2 separate regions of the Homo sapiens genome follow, and region 2 is linked to region 1. Evidence: fine-mapped expression QTL. Tissue or cell type: cerebellar hemisphere. Region 1 holds a variant in brackets; the other region holds the start of a gene. All regions are shown on one strand. Distances are from middle to middle.

Region 1 (8,102 bases):
AAAGGGTTTCTCCTTGAGAGAAGCAAGCCTCTGAGTCCAAGGCCCTCCACCAAGCGGCTCTGGTCCAGTGTTCCAGCCTTATTGCCCATCCTGCTCCATGTATGGAGTTGGGGGTTGTCACCACACACAAACACAACGTTCTGCCAACTCACCCTCCTCGATGTCTCTGTTCATCCCCTCCTTCCCATTTCCTCCACTGGACCACCGCCATAGCAGTATTCACTGACTTCCAGTTTCCTGCGGGATAAATCTGAACCCTTTGTCGTGGCACCCAAAGCCCTTGCCCAGCCGCGCTGTCCCAGCTCCTCTTCATCGTGTGGAGCAACTTGCAGTTCTCCAAGCAGCCTCTGCTTTCTCAAGCTTGGAACCTGAGCTGTGTCGTCTTCTCTGCCTGCACCCCTTCTTTTCCATCTCTGCTGGAGAACCCCTGCTTAGCCTCAGTAAAGATGTTTAAGGGACAGTTATGCATGAGGGTTTAGAGTTCACAGACCCAGTCTGTCCTGGAGGTCAAGGGCATGTTGCTGGCAATTGCAGCGTCAACAATTCAATTGAGTAAATACATGAGTGAATAGATGAATTGTTGTGGAATCAGAAACTGAGGCTCGGCCGGGCACGGTGGCTCACGCCTGTAGTCTCAGCACTTTGGGAGGCCGAGGCGGGCGAATCACGAGGTCAGGAGATTGAGACCATCCTGGCTAACACGGTGAAACCCCATCTCTACCAAAAAAAATACAAAAAGTTAGCTGGGCATGGTGGCGGGTGCCTGTAGTTCCAGCTACTCCGGAGGCTGAGGCAGGGGAATGGTGTGAACCCAGCAGGCGGAGCTTGCAGTGAGCCGAGATTGCACCACTGCACTCCAGCCTGGGCGACAGAGTGAGAGTCTGTCTCAAAAAAAAAAAAAAAAAAAAAGAAACTGAGGCTCAATCTGGGCACGGTGGCTCATGCCTATAATTCCAGCACTTTGGGAGGCTGGGGTGGGTGGATCACGTGAGGTCAGGAGTTTGAGACCAGCCTGGCCAACATGGCGAAACCCCGTCTCTACTAAAAATACAAGAATTAGCTGGGCATGGTGGCGGGCGCATGTAATCCCAGCTACTAGGGAGGCTGAGGCAGGAGAATCGCTTGAACTTGGGAGATGGAGGTTGCAGTGAGCCGAGATCACACCATTGCAATCCAGCCTGGGCCAGAGAGTAAGACCCTGTCTAAAAAAAAAAAAAAAAAAGAAAGAAAAAAAGAAACTGAGGCTCAAAGAAAGAGCCCGCAGGTCCACACTGACCTAGTGGCAATGCAGACATAAACATAAACAAAGCCTCTTTTAGGAGCCACTGCTGCCTCTCAGAGGGAGACAGAAATTTCCCGGTTTAATAGGCTTTCTCCCCACCTAATCTGCAGTAGTGAGTCCTAAAATCTGTCCCTGTCCCAATGACTGGTGCCTAGAATGCTTCATAAAAGTGAGAGTCCAGCCCCAGAGGTCAGGGAGTCTGAAGTTTCAAAGACTACACAGGGGATAATGTTGCAGATGAGGCCGGGCCCCTGTGTGAGCTGTGCCCACTGTGTGCAGCTTTGTGAGCTCTCCAGGAAACTGGGAGGATTAGGGTTTTGTATGTGAATCACATACTTCATTAAGGACTGATTCCAGTATAGGGCTCTAGCCATTTCTGATTGGTTTCTGATGGACAGAGGCTGCCTCTGAGACTCAGCAGGGCGTGGGGTGGCTGTGGCAAGAATGTGTGATTTTAGGGAGGCCGCCAGCAGATTCTCTCTCCAGATCTCTTACTTGTCTGTTTCAAGGATTTGACTTGAGATGTATTTTGAGATATATTGTTGCGGGGTGGCTGGGGGCCTGGGGGTGTCAGCAGGCAAAGGAATGTTCCCTTGGATGCTTCCACTGTTGCTGTTAGCAGTCACAGCAGCTCTCACAGCGGGCGCTGTTCTAAACCCTTAGCAGCCGTCCTCCCATAGCCCTGCAGGATGGTGGAGAGACAGGTGCCATTCTCTTTTTTTTTAAGATGAAGTAGGTCGGGAGCTGTGGCTCATGCCTGTAATCCCAGCCCTTTGGGAAGTTAAGGCAGGCAGATGGCTTGAGCCCAGGAGTTTGAGACTAGCCTGGGCAACACAGGGAGACCCTGTCCCTAGCTAAATAAATAAATAAGCTGGGTGTGGTGGTGCATGCCTGTAGTCCCAGCTAAGTGGGAGGCTGAGACGGGAGGATCACTTGAGCCCAGGAGGTCGAGGCGAGCCGTGATCACATCACTGCACTCAGAGCAAGACCCTGTCTCAGAAAAAATGTAAAAAAAGATGAAGAAGCTGAACTTCATGGAGGTCTGCTTAGGGATCCACATCTCAGATGCTCTTGGTCAATGTCAATAGGTTTAGTGGGACCCTGGAGGAAGACATTAGAACATGGTGGGGGCTGGGTTTAGCTGGACAGTGCCTGCCTCATCCGCTGGGGGTCACTGTGACTCAGCTCCCACTGATTCTGGACACAGGACACTGTGGCCCAGTGTGACCTTAGCTGACAATTTTTCAAAAGTAACTGGACGTATAACCTTGTGTAGAAATGCCATCATCCGGCAGGGCGCGGTGGCTCACACCTGTAATCCTAGCACTTTGGGAGGCTGAGGCGGGTGGATCACGAGGTCAGGAGTTCGAGATCTGCCTGGCCAACATGAGGAAACCCTTTCTCTACTAGAAATACAAAAATTAGCGTGGTGGTGCATGCTTGTAATCCCAGCTACTTGGGAAGCTAAGGCACAAGAATCGCTTGAACCCAGGAGGTGAAGGTTGTAGTGAGCCAAGATCATGCCACTGCACTCCAGCCTGGGCGACACAGTGAGACTCCATCTAAAAAATATACATATATGTGTATATATATGTGTGTGTGTATATATATGTATATACATGTATATATATACGTATATATGTGTACATATATACGCATATATATGTATATATTATATATATACATATATACACATATATACACATATACACATATATACGTATATATACACACACATATATATGTGTATGTGTGTATATGTATATATGAAAGAAATGTCATAATCCATAAATGTTGGCAAACAATTTTTTCAAATGAGCCAAACACTGTGTAGGACTGGGTGAGGTGGTGTGCAATTTTAGTCTCAGCTGCTAGGGAGGTTGAAGCGGGAGGATCACTTGAGGCCAGTAGTTTGAGGCTACACTGAGCTGCAATCACGCAGGTGAATAGTGACTGCACTCCAGCCTGGGCGACACAGTGAGACCTCATCTCAAAAACAAAAACAGAACAAAGCACTGTACAGGGCAAGCAAGTAGGTTCAAGAGTCAACTTTAGTCCACAAGGTGCTGGTTTGAAACAGTATTAGTCTGTTTTCACATTGCTATAAGGAAATACCTGAGACTTGGTAATTTATAAAGGAAAGAGGTTTAATTGACTCAGTTCCGCATGGTGGGGAGGCCTCAGGAAACTTACAATCATGGCGGAAGGCACCTCTTCACAGGGCAGCAGGAGAGAGAATGAGTGCCAGCAGGGGAAATGCCAGATGCTTATAAAACCATCAGATCTCGTGAGTACTCACTATCACTAGAACAGCATGGGGGAAACCGCCCCCACGATTCGATTACCTCCCACCAGGTCCCTCCAATGACACATGGGGATTATGGGGATTACAATTCAGGATGAGATTTGGGGCTGGGCGAAGTGGCTTACGCCTGTAATCCCAGCACTTTGGGAGGCCGAACTCCAGAGGTCAGGAGTTTGCGAGCAGCCTGGCCAACACAGTGAAACCCTGTCTCTACTAAAAGTACAAAATTAGCCAGGTGTGGTGGCGCACACCTGCAATCCCAGCTACTCGGGAGACTGAGGCATGAGAATTGCTTGAACCCAGGGGGCAGAGGTTGCAGTGAGCTGAGATCATGCCACTGCACTCCAGCCTGGGCAACAGAGCGAGACTCTGTCTCAAAAAAAAAAAAAAAAAAAAAGATCTCGTATTCATTCTGCAGGCACTGGCGTGCCCACCGTAGGAGTCAGGGTGGAGGAGACAGACCCGATGCAGGGTCTCAGGGCGCTCACAGTCAATGTCAACAGTGTGGCCCATGTTCTGAGGGGCACCCTTCCTCGGGGTATGACACAACACTTCCCATAGGAGGAGGAGGAAGTCTGTTGGATGTTGTGTTTGGTTTCTGGGGCTGCTGTGATCAAGTGCCGCAACCCGGTGGCTTACAGCAACCCAGCTGTATTCTCTCACAGTTCTTGAGGCTGGAAGTCTAAAATCAAGCTGTCAGCAGGGCCCGTGCTCCCTCTGAAGGCTTCAAGGGAGGATCTTTGCCCCGCTCCTAGTTTCCGGTGTTGCCAGCAATCCTCAGTGCTTCTTGGCCTATAGATGCATCACTGCAATCTCTGCCTCC[G/A]TGGTCATGTGGCATTTTTCCCGTGTGTCTGTCTTTCCCCCTCCAAAGTTCACCAGTCATACAGGATTAAAGGCCCACCCTACTCCCATATGGGCCTTTAATCCTCATACTCCAGTTTGACCTCATCTTAACTTGATTCCACCTGAAAAGACTATTTCCAAGTATGGCCACATTCAGAGGCACCAGGAGTTAGGATTTGAACGTAACTTTTTTTTTGTTTTTGAGACGGAGTCTCACTCTGTCGCCCAGGCTGGAGTGCAGTGGCATGATCTTGGCTCACTGCAAGCTCCACCTCCCGGGTTCACGCCATTCTCCTGCCTCAGCCTCCTGAGTAGCTGGGACTACAGGTGCCCACCACCACGCCTGGCTAATTTTTTGTATTTTTAGTAGAGACGGGGTTTCACTGTTAGCCAGGATGGTCTCGATCTCCTGACCTCGTGATCCGCCCACCTCGGCCTCCCAAAATGCTGGGATTACAGGAGTAAGCCACCATGCCCGGCTGTGAACATGTCTTTTGCGGGGGCACACAATTCAACTCCCAATGTGTACAGTAGTTAGGTGACATTTGGGAAGACTGTTCCAGGTAGAGAAAACAGCAGGTGAAAAGGCCCAAAGGCAGGAGGGCACTGGTGAGTTCTAGGAAGTAAAAGAAATTCAGCACAGCTGGAGTGGAGAGTGGCAAGGAGGTGCAGCTGAGGCGACTCATGCTGGACCTTATAGGCCAGGTGGGAGGGTGAGAGTAGGCCAGGCTACAGTTTGAGAGAAAAAAAAAATCCCAAATCTCAGTGCCAGGCCCAGTACAGGTTCATTTTCAGCTTGTGTCAAATCTGATGTGGGCCGAACAGCTCTTCTCCATGAGGTAGCTCAGCCGTGTAGAACACATGGTCGCGGGGTGAAGGGAAGTCTGGACAAGGCCCCCAGTCTCCATGGCCCCAGCCTGAAAGGAACTCTTCCACTCACAGACCACACAGCAGGGGAGGCTGGCAAGGTGGGGGCACAGATTTCTGGGAGCCCCAACTGTCTGTCCCACTCGTATTCACCCGAAGTCAAGGCTAAGACTTCATCCTGACAGCACTGGGAAGTCAGCCAGGGTTTTCACACAGAGGTAGTGACAAGATGGGACTTGCATTTTCAGTTTTTCCTTTTTTCACTGTAGCTCTCAGATCTTATGACTTGTGTTTTAGAAAGATTCATCTGGCTAGAGGACTCCTCTGAAGCAGGGGAGCTGGAGTTTGGTGGAGCGGGGAAAGTGGCTGCAGCGGGAGTTGGCCACAGCAGAGGCACGATATATTTGTAGTTAACTCATGCAACTTCCACCTTGCAGGCTCAGCCAAAAAACCGAAAAAAAGAATGTGAGAAAAATCAATTCATGTAATTAAAAAACAATCCAAAAGCATTTTGTGTATGTCCTTTCCTAGATTGGAGATTGTCCACATTTTATGCATATATTCTGAATAGCCCAAACCCAGGGAGTGTATACTCTATGGGCCTTTTAAGAGATTTTCAGGGGTAACTGAGCTCCTGGCTGACTTGAGAACCTCACTGTCATGGAATTGCCCTCTACTCAGGGTCTGTAACTGAACCTAATAACAAAAGTAGGGAGGCTTGTGTCAAAAGGACTTCCTGCTGTTTCCCAAACAGTGTGGTGCCTTGCCTCTGGCAGAAACACCCTTGGATACAATATGAAGGCTTTATTTATTTATTTATGTAATTTCATTTTTTTGAGACAGAGTCTGGCTCTGTCCCCCAGGCTGGAGTGCAGTGGCACGATCTCGGCTCACTGCAAGCTCTGCCTCCCGGGTTCACACCATTCTCCTGCCTCAGCCTCCCGAGTAGCTGGGACTACAGGCGCCCCCCCACCACGCCCGGCTAATTTTTGTATTTTTAGTAAAGACAGGGTTTCACCGTGTTAGCCAGGATGGTCTCGATCCGCCTGCCTCGGCCTCCCAAAGTGCTGGGATTACAGGCGTGAGCCACCGCACCCGGCCCGGCATTTTTTATTTTTTGCTGAGACTGACCCCTACCTGCCTGCAGTTCTTTCTAGTTTATGAAGTGTTTTCTAAGCCATTACCTTATTTGAGCTTCAGGATTCTTTATTTATTTATTTATTTATTTTGAGACAGAGTCTCGCTGTGTCACTTAGCCTGGAGTGTAGTGGTGCGATCTCGGCTCGATGCAACCTCCATCTCCCAGGTTCGAGTGATTCTTGTGCCTCAGCCTCCCGAGCAGGGGGGACTACAGGCCTGGGCCACCATGCCCAGACTTTTTTTTGTATTTTTAGTAGAGATGGGGGTTCCACCATGTTGCTCAGGCTGGTCTCAAACTCCTGGCCTCATGGGATTCTCCTGCCTTGGCTTACCAAAGTGGTGGGATTACGGGCGTGAGCCACCACGCCCAGCTGAGCCTCAGAATAAATTAGATCTTTGATAGGAGATCTAATTTACATCAAGGAACTCAGAAGCTCAGACACACCTTGTCCCACAGTAGCCAGGAGCCCTGGAAACAATCCCCAATGTGGAGTTGGACGTGTTGGTTTCATGGCCACAGTTTTAGCTGTGGTTTCAGTATTCTTGTGTATAAAATATGGGTAACTGCACAAAGCTATTTTGAAGCTCCAGTAAAGCAAGGTTGGTGAAAGCATTTTGCAAACTGCTAAGCGCTGTCCAAATGTTGTATCCTCAGACTTTACACGTCACTGAAAGTGTTTCTGAGTCGTGCTAAAGAAATCCACGTGGAAGATTAAGGGAATTTATGCCTGCAGTAATGTCTTTGGGCTGCACCTACACTATTTGACTTTGAACTTAATTTCCTGAATTACCTTCACTGCTTGGGGAGCTGTGCCCATCATCTCCTGCAGGCCACAGCCCTGGCCCTCATTTCTGTGGGTTGGCAAGGGCTGGGGTGGAGGTGGGGTGAGCAGTTTGTTAGAGACCGCCCTGAAAGCCTTGCTGCCAGATCTCAGTGACATGAGTAAGGTCGTGTGGAAATATGTGACTTCCTGTTATGGAATTAGCCTGGGACAGTGAAGAGTGGCCTTGGGGTGAACCAGAGGGCACTTGCCCACCTGGGTATGGGTATCCCAGCTGCACTTGATTGTTACTTTGGGGGAAGGCAGTACAGTGTGAGCTAAATCTTCGGACTTTCCTAGAGAAGCCTGAAATCCACGTATCTTCATTTTTCATTCTCAGGGCAACTCCAGTGCCTGGGTGGAGTTAGTGCCTGAGTTGGTTGTGTAGCTTTGGGCCGCTGCTCTTGACTTCAGTTTTCTCATTTAAAATTGGTGATCCACCTGAGATCAGGAGTTCAAGACCAGCCTGGTCAACATGGTAAAACCCCATCTCTACTAAAAATACAAAAATTAGCCCGGCATGGTGGAACACACCTGCAATCCCAGCTACTCAGGAGGCTGAGGCAGGAGAATCGCTAGAACCTGGGAGGTGGAGGTTGCTGTGAGCTGAGATGGCTCCACTGTACTCCAGCCTGGGCGACAGAGCGAGACCCCCGTCTCAAAGAAAAAAAAAACCTGGTGATCTAGCTGGGCAACATAGGGAGACCCTGTGTTTACAAAAAATTCGCTTGGCGTGGTGGCCACGTTTCTGGTTCCAGCTACTTGGGAGGCTGAGGCAGGAGGCTCATTTGAGCCCGGGAGGTTGAAGCTGCAGTAAGCCGTGATCGTGCCACTGGACTCCAGC
Region 2 (8,102 bases), 68 kb before region 1:
CCTCAGCCTCCTGAGTAGCTGAGACTACAGGCGCCTGCCACGACGCCTGGCTAATTTTTTGTATTTTTAGTACAGACAGGATTTCACCATGTTAGCCAGGATGGTCTCGATCTCCTAACCTCGTGATCCACCCGCCTCAGCCTCCCAAAGTGCTCGGATTATGGGCGTGGGCCACGGCGCTTGGCCCACCCCTGCATTTATTGAGTTAAATTTTAAAAATCCTATCCTAGGAAATTGGTGGTGGGGCTCAGAAAATGATACCCCAAAGTATGAAGCTGTGGGAGGCTGAATGCTTTGAACTAAAGTATCTGACCATCGCTCACTCCTTTTCCCTCCCAAAACCCTCCTGAAGCGCAGGGAGGGGCCTTCTCTGATGTTCTCTTTTGTTTCTAAGGGAAGTTCCTGCAGAAGGAATGCCATTGTCTTGAGCCCTTTCCCTAGCATCTCATAAAACATGGACAATTAACTCACAGGAAAGGATACTGAAGGTGATACCATCTCTTCTGAGGACTGGGCTGCTTGAGAGGTTTTATCTGCATGACAAGACAGCCTTTGTTTGCCATGCATTTCCTCCCCTCAACCTCCTAGCGTCTGCTGCCACCTCCTCCCAGAAACCTCAGGCCCCAGTTTTTGGAGCTCAAATGCTATTTAGACTTCATCAGTCTGGCCCTTACTAGAGTCTCACATTTTGTGGGACTCCTGTGCATGTATGTAATAAATTTGCATGCCTTTTCTCCTATTAATCTGTCTACTGTCAATTTTATTCCAGAGACTCAAATTATTGAAGCTTCGGAGAATACAGGGAATGTTTAAAACTTCTACGCTGGCAAAAAGTTAATTCAATTATTACTGAATTAATGGGAGAATTGATTGCTTTGAAGGAATCCTCCCCATCCCTAACAAAAATCAAAAACAATCCCTATGGGGAAAGATGGACAAAGTCAACTATTTAATACAACTTGGTGCACACTTGAAAATAATACCAAGATGCAAGGATGGCCACATACTGGGGGAGAACCTCAACTTTGCTCACATCCTTCTTGGCTGTGAGGCAGGCCAAGGCTCCCGGAGAGGAAGTGGGGAAGCCTGGGGCATTTGCCAAAGCCTGTGAGGTCAGGTTGGCTGGAAGGTGGCTTGGGCCCCTTGGCACCAAGGCAAGGTTCAATCAACTCTCCACCCCTATGGCTTCCGTTTGGGCCAGGGCCACCCAGGCTCCTCATGCTTGGGCAGGCATCTCTGGGATCCGCCCTCCTGACGCCCCTGCAGGCACACAGTCCTGCTGTGGGCCTTCTCCCCTGCTATATATCATAAGGTTTTTGAGCCGCAGTTTCCTTATGTATACGTGGAGGACACTGGCTTCTTGAGTATCTCTGAGTACCTCCTGTGTGCAAAGCATATGGTGTTGGCGATAAGGCAGTGATGAAGACAAAACATGGGCCTGGTGGAATTTTTTTTTTTGTTGTTCGTTTTTGTTTTGTTTTGAGACAGGGTCTCACTCTGTTGCCCAGGCTGGAGTGTAGTGGTGCAATCTTGGCTCACCGCAACCTCCGCCTCCCGGGCTCAAGCGATTCTCCTGCCTCGGCCTCCGAAGTAGCTGGGATTACAGGTGTCTGCCACTATGCCTGGCTAATTTTTTTTTTTTTTTGTATTTTCAGTAGAGACAGGGTTTCACCATGTTGGCCAGGCTGGTCTTGAATTCCTGACCTCAAATGATCCACCCGCCTTGGCCTCCCAAAGTACTGGGATTACAGGTATGAGCCACCACGCCTGGCCCATGTTTGTTTGTTTTTGAGACAGGGTCTCTCACACTCTGTTATCTAGGCTGGAGTAGTGGCGCGATCACTGCTCACTGCAGCCTCGACCTCCTAGGCAGCCTCCCATCTCAGCCTCCCAAGTAGCTGAGACTACAGATGTGCACCACCACACCCGGCTAATTTTTGTATTATTTGTACAGACAGGGTCTCCCTATGTTGTCCAGACTGGTCTAGAACTCCTAGGCACAAGCATTCCTCCCTCCTCAGCCTCCTAAAGTGCTGGGATTACAGGCGTGAGCCACCATGTCTGGCCCCAAAGAGGGTGATGGGAGTGGGGGCCAGAAGACAGAATGAACAAATAAACACGCAAGATAACTTCCAAGTGCTATAAAGAAAACAGGTCGGCTGGGTGCGGTGGCTCACGCCTGTAGTCCCAGCACTTCGGGAGGCCGAAGCAGGCGGATCGCGAGGTTAGGAGTTCAAGACCAGCCTGGCCAGCATGGTGAAACCCCGTCTCTACTAACAATACAAAAAATTAGCCAGGCATGGTGGTGTGCACCTGTAGTCCCAGCTACTCAGGAGGCTGAAGCAGGAGAATTGCTTGAACCTGGCAGGCGGAGGTTGCAGTGAGCCAAGATTATGCCATTGTACTCCAGCCTGGGCGACAGAGCAAGACTCCGTCTCAAAAAAAAAAAAAAAAAAGAAAACAGGGCAAGGAATGGTGGCTCATTCCTGTAATCCCAATACTTCCAAAGGCTGAGAGGGGAGGATCTCTTGAGGCCAAGAGTTCGCAACCAGCTTGGGCAACATAGGGAGACCACCTCTCTATTTTGAAAAAAAAAAAAAAAGTAAGTTGTGCAAAGGGGAGGGAGGGGAAGGCATGGAGGATTCAAGGGGAGGATGGCCTGGAATGAGGCCCAACCAAAAAGGGAGCAGAAGTGGGCAACACAGAGACCTGGCTTTTTCTCCAGGGCTGTTCCTAGTCCCAGCTGAGGCCTGAGGAGGAGTGGGGACTTCTCTACTCTTTCCCTCCAGAGCAGAGGGTCCGGGATAGAAAATTCAATCTGGGGCTGGGTGTGGTGGTTCATGCCTGTAATCCCAGCAATTTGGGAGGCTGTGGTGGGTGGATCACCTGAGGTCAGGAGTTTGAGACCAGCCTGGCCAACATGGCAAAATCCCCTCTCTACTAAAAATACAAAAATTAGCCGGGCATGGTGGAGCATGTCTGTAATCTGTTACTCATGGAGCTGAGGCAGGACAATCGCTCGAAGCTTGGAGGTGGAGGTTGCAGTGAACCGAGATCACACCACTGCACTCCAGCCTGGGCAACAGAGCAAGACTTCATCTCAAAAAAAGAAAAAGAAAATTCAGTCTGGACCTGGGTTTGGGGTCAGTGCCTGTTCCCTCCTCCTTCCTAACCCTCACCCTTCCTCCTTAGGGCAGATGGGCAGCTCCCATCTTCTCCCCTTCCCCCGTTCCCCAGGACAGCGACCAACACAGGGCGGCAGGGTAGGGCTGGACCCCCTCCTCCGCAGAACTGAATTCTGTTGAATACCCAGTGGGCAGATTAAGTTCGGGCTAAGGGGACCAGAAAGGCTGGGACAGGAAAGGAGTTTTCTTTTCTTTTCTTTTTTTTTTTTTTGAGACGGAGTCTCGCTCTGTCGCCTAGGCTGGAGTGCAATGGCGCGATCTCGGCTCACTGCAACCTCCGCCTCTCGGGTTCAAACGATTCTCCTGCCTCAGTCTCCCGAGTAGCTAGGATCATGGGACTACAGGCGCCTGCCACCATTCCCGGCTAATTTTTGTATTTTTAGTACAGACGGGGTTTCACCATATTGGACAGGCTGGTCTCGAACTCCTGACCTTATGTTCCGCCCGCCTCAGCCTCCCAAAGTGCTGGGATTACAGGCGTGAGCCGCCCGGCCCGGAGTTTTCTATTCTTTTTTTTTGAGACGGAGTCTCGCTCTGTCGCCCAGGCTGGAGTGCAGTGGCGCCGTCTCGGCTCACTCCGAGCTCCGCCTCCCGGGTTCACGACATTCTCCTGCCTCAGCCTCCCGAGTGGCTGGGACTACAGGCGCCCCCCACCTCGCCCGGCCAATTTTTTGTATTTTTAGTAGAGACGGGGTTTCACCGTGTTAGCCAGGATGGTCTCGATCTCCTGACCTCCTGATCCGCCCGCCTCGGCCTCCCAAAGTGCTGGGATTACAGGCGTGAGCCGCCGCGCCCGGCCTGGAGTTTTCTTTTTTTTTTTAAGCATCACTTCATATTTCAAGAGCTCTCAGTTCTCCTGAGATTTCTAGGCTCTGTCCAGGATCCCTAAGCCTGTTCACAGTCCTACTTGAAGTTTCTAATCTTTCTTTTCTCATTAACCAAAACTGGAGAGAGGAAAAAGCCCATCATTTTCCCTGGACAGCAGCGCCTACTGGGAGTTTCACCCGCATTAACATGCAAACGACAGGCAAACTCCTAGTCATCCTTCCAAAGACCCTGCTCCACAGCCCTGCCGAGGCCGGTGCGCACCTAGCCCAGCCACTGCCCCTCACGGCCCCCGCGCCGCCCTCACTGAGCAGGGCGGGCAGCGCTGTAAGCGTAACCACTTGGGGCTTGGGGCTTCTGACCCGGGAGTCGGGTGCTGGGTTGAGTGCGAGGCCGACGCCTCTGCCGGGTGGGGAACCCGCCCGCCGGCGAGGAGCGGTCGCGGCCAGGGGCTTCCGCCGACTGGGAGGCCCGGGGCCGGGCCGGAGGGACTCGGAACCTGGAAACGACCAGGCGCGACCCCCAGAGGACTACAGGCGCGGCTTTTCTGGCCGCCGCCCGGTTCCCGCGGGCGACTCCACTCGGCATGCGCGGCGGGGAGCCTCGGCGGTGAGGCGCAAAGCCGCGGGCTCGTGGGACGGCCACCCCTCCGCAAAACCGCCAATGGGCGGGCCCGGGCCGCCGATCGCCCGCCGCGGCTTCCGGTTCCGATGACAGTGGCGCCGGAAGCCGGGGCCGGGGCTGCGGGGCGAGGTGAGAGCGGGCGGGCTTGGGAGCCGGCAGGTGCGGGCCGAGGGCGGGCACAGCGGCCGGCGGAGCTGAGGCGCGCGGCGGGGAAAGCTCGGCCGGCCTCCCGGGCCCCAGCCTTCTCCAGAACCCCTGCTACCCACGACTAAGCCCCGAACAATCTGCCCTTGGGCTTGTTCTCTTCGCAGTTGTCGGCCCTGGGCCGGGAGCTGGAGTCCCAGACTCATAGGTCCCGGCCCAGCCCCCGAAGAGCCGCCTCAGCCGGGGGGAGTTGCTCGGACTCAAACGTCCAGTCCTCGTGCGACCGCGCTGGGTCGGAAGTGAGCAGGTGCGCACCGGGCTCGGCAGGGCTATGGAGCAGGGTCTTTGGAAGGATGACTAGGAGTTTGCCTGTCGTTTGCATGTTAATGCGGGTGAAACTCCCAGTAGGCGCTGCTGTCCAGGGAAAATGATGGGCTTTTTCCTCCCTCCAGTTTTGGTTAATGAGAAAAGAAAGATTAGAAACTTCAAGTAGGACTGTATAGTAAAAAAAAAAAAAAAATGGAGGAGGGCGATATGACACGGTAACTGGTGTGAGGGTGGGGCGGAGGGGTCAGTATTAGATACTGTGGTCTAGCAGAGCATCTCTGAGGACGGGACATTTGCGTTGAGACCCAAATTAGGAGGCAGGCTTAGGAAGATACGGGAAGAGAGTGGTCCAGGCAGCGGGAACAGCCAGTGTGAAGGCCCTAGGGCAGAAATCAACTGAGAGTATAGTCAAGGAACAGAAAGCAAGCTAGTGTGGCTAAAGTATGGTAAGAAAGGGAAAGAGTGGTAGGAGATGAGGTCGGATAATTGGGGTTTGGTCACATAGAGTCTGTAGGTCAGAGAGAGGAATGTGGAGTTTTTTCTAAGTACAGTGGAAATCTTTTGGTTTTAAGCAGAGGAGTGACATGTAGGGTAGAGAGTGGATGGAGGTCGCGGCTGCAAAAGCATAAGAATTGGCTGGGCACGGTGGTTCACGCCCGTAATTCCAGCACTTTGGGAGGCTGAGACTGGCAGACGGCTTGAGCTCAGCACTTCAAGACCAACCTGGCCAACATGGTGAAACCCTGTCGCTCCAAAAAATTAGGCTGGGCGCAGTGGCTCACGCTTGTAACCCCAGCACTTTGGGAGGCCAAGGCGGGAGGATCACTTGAGGCCAGGAGTTCAAGACCAGCCTGGCCAACATGGTGAAACCCCGTCTCTACTAAAAATACAAAATTTAGCCGGGTGTGGTGGCAGGTGTCTGTAATTCCAGCTACTTGGGAGGCTGAGGCAGGAGAATCGCTTGAAACTGGGAAGCAAAGGTTGCAATGAGCCAAGATCGTGCCACTGTACTCCAGCCTGGGCGACAGAGTAAGACTCTGTCTCAAAAACAAACAACAAAAAAATTAGCCAGGTGTGGTGGGGAGAGAGGGGAAGAATAGGGACAAAAGGGAATACATAAATAAACACAAAGGAGAAAAGGCCCTGCATGGACCACTTACATGTGTCATGAACTCAGGAGTGTTCATGGTGGGACTACATGGTGCACCTGTAGTCCCAGCTTCTTGGGGTGGGGGGCTGAGGTGGGAGGATCACTTGAGCCCAGGAGGTCGAGGCTGCAGTGAGCCCTGATTGTACCACAGCACTCTGGCCTGGGAAACAGATTGAGACCCTGTCTCTCTCTTTTTTTTTTTTTTTTTAAGCAACCCTATTAACTGAAGAGACCCTGCCTCACAAAAAAAAAAAAAAAAAAAAAAAAGCGTTAAGAATTGGGTCAATGGAGGTTGTCTAATCTTTTTTTTTTGTTTTTGTTTGTTTGTTTGTTTTTTTGAGACAGTCTCACTCTGTCGCCCAGGCTGGAGTGCAGTGGCGCCATCTCAGCTCACTGCAACCTCTGCCTCCTGGGTTCAAGCAATTCTCCTGCCTCAGCCTCCCGAGTAGCTGGGATTACAGGCACGCACCACCACGCCCAGCTAATTTTTGTATTTTTAGTAGAGACAGGGTTTCGCCATGTTGGTCAGGCTGGTCTCAAACTCCTGACCTTGTGATCCGCCTGCCTCGGCCTCCCAAAGTGCTGGGATTACAGGCATGAGCCACCACGCCCAGCCGATGTTGTCTAATCTTTGTCAGGCAAAAGGGACCTTTATGATTTGCTCAAACTTCCTTTCTCCTTACACAGGAGCCCCTTGTTTCAGGATGCTAAATACTCCAGGATAAACCTCCATACATGCCTTTGTGGAGATTTTAATATTTCACTCATGTCTCTTTTCTACCCACTCCTACACATTTGAGCTCAGGTTCTCCAGCGCAGTTAGGAAATGGATGTGTCATTTAATCAGCAAATGTGTGTGTGTGTTTTTTTAAATTTGAGACGGAGTTTTTGCTCTTGTTGCCCAGGATGGAGTGCAATGGCGTGGTCTTGGCTCACTGCAACCTCCACCTCCTAGGTTCAAGCGATTGTCCTGCCTCAGCCTCCTGAGTAGCTGGGATTACAGGTGCCCGCCACCACGCCTCGGTAATTTTTGTATTTTTAGTAGAGACGAAGTTTCACCATGTTGGTCAGGCGGGTCTCAAACTCTTGACCTCAGGTGAGCCACCCACCTCAGCCTCCCAAAGTGCTGGGATTACAGGTGTGAGCCACTGCGCCGGCCAATCAACAATTTTTTTTTTTTTTGGAGACGGAGTCTCACGCTGTCTCCCAGGCTGGAGTGCAGTGGCACAATCTTGGCTCACTGCAAGCTCCACCTCCCGGGTTCACACCATTCTCCTGCCCCAGCCTCCCGAGTAGCTGGGACTACGGGTGCCCGCCACCACACCCGGCTAATTTTTTGTATTTTTTTAGTAGAGATGGGGTTTCACCGTGTTAGCCAGGATGGTCTTGATCTCCTGACCTCATGATCCACTCGCCTCGGCCTCCCAAAGTGTTGGGATTACAGGCGTGAGCCACCGCGCCCTGCCCCAATCAACAAATGTTTACTGAGCATCTACCATGGACCAGGCCCTAGTCTGGGCACTGAGGGGGAGAAAGGACAAGACTACATTCCAGCCATCGAGCAGCTCACAGACCAATGGAGGAGGCTGACGTGGACAGGCTGTTACTGTGCTGCAGTAGCTGAGGACTCGATGGGTGTGGTGTGGCCACTCTTGCCAGGTTATGAAGCAGAAAAGGAGGCAGGGAGATTTCACTGAGGGCTCAAGGGGAGGTGATAATTTAACTACAGCTTACGTACTCTATACAAAGAAGTGCAGAGGGCACTCTAAAAATGGGAACAACTTGTGCAAAGGAAGCAAATACATTATTGCAAAGGGTTTATATGTCAACCATGGTAGTGTTGGGCA

Alleles and levels. Alleles are on the strand shown, and positions count from the first base shown. SD is a standard deviation of normalised expression in the study named.
For the expression in cerebellar hemisphere of the gene that starts at base 4,723 in region 2, G is the low allele of the variant in region 1 and A is the other (large effect, 1.0 SD a copy in GTEx).

Evidence for each region. PIP is the estimated chance that this variant, and not a neighbour inherited with it, causes the effect.
Region 2: RMND5B starts here. The variant in region 1 is fine-mapped to the expression of RMND5B in cerebellar hemisphere (GTEx, PIP above 0.99).

What each region holds. Positions count from the first base shown.
Region 1 is chr5:178,194,717-178,202,818 of GRCh38, forward strand. No RefSeq gene overlaps it. Among named protein-coding and RNA genes, the nearest start is that of HNRNPAB, 5.8 kb to the right of the region's middle. The variant G/A (reference allele first, on the strand shown) is at 4,411.
Region 2 is chr5:178,126,292-178,134,393 of GRCh38, forward strand. RMND5B (required for meiotic nuclear division 5 homolog B) reads left to right here and starts at 4,723. Exons shown (of 11, transcript NM_022762.5): 1 at 4,723-4,763; 2 at 4,946-5,085. It also overlaps a transcript of N4BP3 not described here. RefSeq lists enhancers at 248-908, 1,571-2,231, 3,245-3,896, 3,897-4,548, 5,827-6,356 and a silencer at 4,280-4,869.